Regions from separate parts of the Homo sapiens genome. Here region 2 is linked to region 1. A link means that fine-mapping ties the variant in region 1 to the expression of a gene that starts in the linked region. Tissue or cell type: whole blood. Region 1 holds a variant in brackets; the other region holds the start of a gene. All regions are shown on one strand. Distances are from middle to middle.

What was found. PIP is the estimated chance that this variant, and not a neighbour inherited with it, causes the effect.
Region 2: it holds the start of RBM18, and the variant in region 1 is fine-mapped to the expression of RBM18 in whole blood (INTERVAL, PIP above 0.99).

What each region holds. Positions count from the first base shown.
Region 1 is chr9:122,242,879-122,245,638 of GRCh38, forward strand. RBM18 (RNA binding motif protein 18) reads right to left here. Exons shown (of 6, transcript NM_033117.4): 5 at 2,378-2,463. Among named protein-coding and RNA genes, the nearest start is that of LHX6, 15 kb to the left of the region's middle. The variant C/G (reference allele first, on the strand shown) is at 1,016.
Region 2 is chr9:122,263,612-122,266,371 of GRCh38, forward strand. It overlaps RBM18 (RNA binding motif protein 18), which reads right to left and starts at 1,229. Exons shown (of 6, transcript NM_033117.4): 1 at 1,104-1,229. It overlaps MRRF (mitochondrial ribosome recycling factor), which reads left to right and starts at 1,271. Exons shown (of 7, transcript NM_138777.5): 1 at 1,271-1,327. RefSeq lists enhancers at 411-1,382, 761-1,960, 1,383-2,353, 1,529-1,688.

The DNA.
Region 1 (2,760 bases):
TGCAGTGGTGTGATTTCGGCTCACTGCAACCTCCGCCTCCCAGGTTCAAGCAATTCTCTTGCCTCAGCCTCCCAAGTAGCCGGGATTACAGGTAGCAAGCGCCACCACGCCCAGCTAATTTTTGTACTTTTAGTAGAGACAGGGTTTCACCATTTTGGCCAGAATGGTCTCAATCTCTTGACCTCGTGATCCGTCCGCCTTGACCTCCCAAAGTGCTGGGATTACAGGCGTGAGCTACCGCGCCCAGCCCCATCTGATTTTTTTAACTTTTTTTGTAGAGATGGAGTCTCACTATGTTGTCCAGGCTGGTCTTGAACTCCTGGCTTCAAGTAATCCTCCTGCCTCAGCCTCCCTAAATGCTGGGATTACAGGCATGAGCCACTGCACTCGACCTACTTATAATGTTTTTAATCCTTGCAATGGCTCTACATGGGTTATCATGCATGTTTTATAGATACAGAAACAAATGCAGAGGTGGTGATATGATCAAGGTTCACACAGTTAACAAACTGTAGTGAGGATTCAACTCATCACCAAAGCCCTCATTTTTTCTTCTCCATCAAGTTAAGAGCTGAATAGTCCTATATTGTACAGGAAGGGAGAGGAGATCTTAGAGAAGTTGCGAGGAATTTGCTTTTGATTGAGATCATTGCTATCCCTGGATCAGAATGCAGAGCACTCAGGGAGTAGGTATTTTTTGGCCTATGGCTACCTTCATTTTCCATTCTTGATGCGTTAATGGTCTATGGCCAGTGAGAGAAACTTGGAAGGAGTATATACATGGGCTTTTGGAGATCCTCGAAAGGTATACATGGGCGAGAAATTTAAAAACTAAGTTACAAGAAAAAGAACACTGATATATTACCGAGATGCATTCTGGCCCCTCTTCCATTAATGCCACAGCTGGTCACTGATTTTGTATAAGTCACAGGGAAGCAACCTTCTCTCATTAGGCATAGATGTTAATAGAGAGATGTAAGCTGAGGTCCTCTGGATAAAAAAATAGATGGAAAAC[C/G]CTAGGCTATCTTGTAAACAAGTGGCATATACAAATCATAAGAAACTAAAGACATGTTCATTGTAACATGAAGACCACCAAGCATAAATGCAGTCATCTCTTTCAAATAGGAGTTAGTTAGATTTATGAAAACCTTCATGGAAATCAATCTGTGATCAAGGAGGTTCAAATCTTATGAGGAAAATAACACAGTGGATATATGCTCCCAGTGACTCTACAGAAGTCCCTTAATTCCCTAGAGCACGAAATAAAAAAAAAAAATCATATTAAACTTAAATGAATAACTATAGAATGAATTTAAATTTACCAATTTACCATTCCTGAAAACATTTCAGGAACACCTTCCCTTGGGTTTAATGAGATGCTTGTAAATCTGTTTTGTTTGGTGCAGATAATATACAAGAAAGGCATTTATTTCCCCTGCTTGGTACTCCACCCAAATAGGCATCACTTTCCTGACTTTAGAATTGTTGGTTTCTGATCCTTATGTATCACTGATGCTCCTTCACGTATTTTCTTCCCCTGCCCCGGAACAGGTTTTAGTCCTGCATTTACAGCCTGGGGCTTCTTTGAAGTAGTAACTACAAGACTGAATTTTGAGGTCTAATAGACCTGGCTTTAAATCCTGAGTGTTATTTGCCATCTGTGTGATCTCAGCCATAAGTAAATGACACACTGCAAATAAAGTGTTTAGCACAGTGCCTGCTTCAGCGTAAGCTCAATAAATCCTGGCTATTGTTATTGTTATTGCTAAAATGTCTCCCTAGGCTACAAGGCAAAACAAAACAAAACAAAAAACAAACAAACAAAAAACCCACCTTCTACTTCTGCTCAACCATCCACTTAACTTCCCCTTCCTCTACCCAACCCTTAGTTCTCCTGTTTTAAACTTCAAATAACTAACAATTTGTACAAACTAGAACCAAAACTGTTATGGCTGTTGCAATGGTACATAGAATCAAACATCTGCAAACTAAAATTTTGTATAAGGGAACTTAAGATTGGGGAAAAATTAGTATATAATGACAAATGCCAAAGAGACCCAAGGCCTTATTAAAATGCTTGTTTTTAGGGTAATGACTGACCTGTCTTTGTAATTTTAGTGCCAAGCACAAGGGTTGGTGTGTAGTAGCTACACCCAGTCTTTTTCGAGGGAATGATTCTGTAAATGGGGAGTATATGACCTTAGGTGGATGGAAGGAGAGGAAATGTATACATTCTGGAGACTAACTGAACATCTCTCTTGTCAAGTTAATAAATTCTAAGAGTCTGAAGACTCACTATTTTATGAACGAAGACATGGAATAATGAAATGGCTGAAGCTCCTGAATTACTGTGTCTTTCTATAGTACATCATCTTACCTTAGGTTAGACTGAGTAGGCTCAGTGCTTGAGGATGGCTCGAGACTGATTGGAAGAATCTTATCATTCTTGTTATGATCATATCTCTGAAAATGAGAAATAGAGAAATTACTTCACATGGGCAGAAACCAGCCCTTTACTGTAGTGGATGGGTTCAGAAACTAATACCATCAGTATATCATCAGCTTACTTCTAGACAATTTTAGGACCACTTTACACTTAGAATTAATGAAAAACTTCACATGGTTTTGGCCTAAAAGCTGTAAGTTTAGAAAAAGAAGCTTCCATCCAGCCATCAGTTCCTCCTTATTTGGTAGGAAAAAAATGTCAACTTTCAATATCTCAGATGGTACAAACACACAGGAGGGTGGCCTTCTTATATT
Region 2 (2,760 bases), 21 kb after region 1:
ATAATTAGTGATACATGCCACAAACACAATTAAGCAGGGTGATGTGACAGGGACTCGACGACTATAGATTGAGTGGAGGGAAGGCCTCTCTAAAGGAGATGACATTTGGGACTTGAATGATAGGACATTCTGATTTTCTCATGTCTAAAATCAGGAATAATACCAATAGCTATTAATATTTATTACCACGAAAAGGTACCATGTTTTACTGGTAAGAGTGCAGGCTATGCGGGTCTGGGTTCAAATCCTGACTTTTGCACCTAGTAACTGCACCTTTAGCAAGTCACATGACCTTTCTTTAAGCATCCTCTCGATAGAAAAGCTTTCCTAAACAGAGTTCCTTGTTATTCTATATCATAGCCACTTTTCCATCTTTTTCCTCCTACTAAATGCTAATTCAATGTATTACTTAATGTTTCCTCTTCTATTTCCTTCACTAGAACGTAAGCTCCCACAGCACAGGACCTTGCCAATCTTGATCACGGTTCTATTTCTAGCACTTAAGTACACTGCCTGTCTCACGGTTGGTGCTTAATATTTACTAAATGAAGCAAGCCGCTTCTCCACTCGAAGACTTAGTTTCTTTTTCCTTCCTAGAATGGGTACAATTTGTCGTCTCACGAGGTCGTTGTGAGTCTTAAATAAGACAATTTTGGTGACAGCTCAGAATATGGCTTTTTGAGGAAAGGTAAAGGGTAATAAAAGATCAAGACGGCACGGGACTATCAAAATGCTTTGCGTTTGCAATAGCAACAATCCTTTAGACTACCAGAGTTCACAAAACGCGGTTACATTTGTCTTTCCAGCTGAGCTGCAATAACTCTGGAAGCCAGAAATAGTCATCTGGGGAAAGTGCAATCCAGAGAAGAAGAGACACCTGATCCTAACAGCAAGCGGTGGGGTCATGCCTGGAACCCTGGCTTCCCGATTTCTGGCTGCGAATTCCTACAGGCGAAGGGTCATTACTCGGATTGTTATTTCCGGGCCAGCGACAGGACAATCCGGGGCGGGGCCTGAGATGCAGTCCTGCGAGGGCGGCCTCCTGTAAGACCTCTTAGCGGGCCCATCGCTGAGGTGCAGGGACATGTCGCGGCCGAACTCACCTCGTGGCCTCGGCGTGGTGCTCTCAGCTCATGCCCGGAAACCAGGTCCCGACGCCGCGGTCAGACGGACCTCTAGACGCGTCCGCCTCAATGCCGCCAGCTGCCAGGCCGCCCGTGACGCGTTAAGCCTGCGCCGCCTCCTGGCTTCGTGACGTCACGACGTCCGCGCAGCTGCGGTCGCCGCCGTCGCACGAGTCTTTCCTTAGTAACCTGGGCGATAGCTGGTGAGTGTCCTTGACAGGGCCTCGAGGGGCGCGTGTGGTCTGGGTGCCAGAGACCCTTACTCAGGGACCTCTGGGGGACCTCAGGGGACCAGACTACCGTCCCCGACCCGTTCGAGTCCAGCTTGACCTTTAAGGCTGAGGGCGGGACCTGTGGCATTGGAGCGAGTCTCATGGGGTGGGGGCGGGGCTCCTTTTACCAGCTAGGAATTTAGGGGATGCTGGAGGAACTTACTAAAGAGTAGCCGCACACTTGACGGGAACGTTTGAGTTTCAGAACAATCCCATAGGAGTAGATATTATTATCTCCCATAATGAAGAAACGGAAGCTCACATAGGTAATTTTACCAGGGTCACGCGGTCAGAAAGTGAGGGCGCTTAAATTCAGACCTAGGGCTATCCGACTCCTAAGCCTGGACTTTTAACCACCACTCTGTGCCACCCAGTGGCAAAACAGTTGTCATTTCAGTAGCCCTTCTCCATTTACTTAACCCTGACAAATAGTATTGTCATTTACGTTTTACAGATGAGACGGAAGTCCTGAGAGTTTGACCGATTTAAGGTCACGTGCCTAGGAAGTGCTGGAACCAAGACTCGGAGTTTTCTCTAAGTTTAGTGCCTTTATTTTGTTTTAAACCACACTGTTGCATTTCCCCCCATTTTGGAAAGCTTTATAGTTGGAAAGAATGAAAACCTGATCTGACCCCTTCATTTTATGGTTGAAACAAAATCTACGTAGGAGAAATCACTTGGTACAAGTCACAAGTCAGTGGTAGAGCTGCCGCAAATGCTTTTTGAATACGTGTGATTATGAATCTAAATGGCAGATGGCAGGGAGTGATAAGGTAGGCATACTGGAATCCAGATCTCTTAACTCTTAGGCAAAAGCCCTTTCTCTACCTGTTAAAGTGTCTCATTCCTTCTTTGGCCGTGCCAGGTGCATAATGATTCTGTGTATAGTCAGATACTACAAGTACCTTTCTTTACCTGGTACTGCATTTAGAGAAGAACATCATCTACTATCTCTAAGCAAAAATCTGGCAAACCAGAGACAGTGGAGGCAACGCTGGGAAGCCCAGAACCTACCATAATAGTAAGGGTAGATTCCCATCCGATTCTGGTTTACCCTGGATAAGGAATTTATCTTTCTGGACTTTCACTGATGTATTCATCACATTCACAGTGTCTTCTGTGTTCTGGCAATGTACCAGGTACTGGGGATACAGCAGTGAACAAGAAAATCATAGATTAGTCCTTGTAGTACTTAGAGTCATATGGAGGGAATTAGACAATCAAATAATTACACAAATGTTAGCTTGTATTGTTAAGAATTAAGTGCTATGATGAAGTAAAGGGTGCTATGAAAGCAGACTACAGGACACTTGACCTAGTTGGGCTGTAGGAGATGGCCAAGGAAGCCGTCCTCTGAGGAAGTG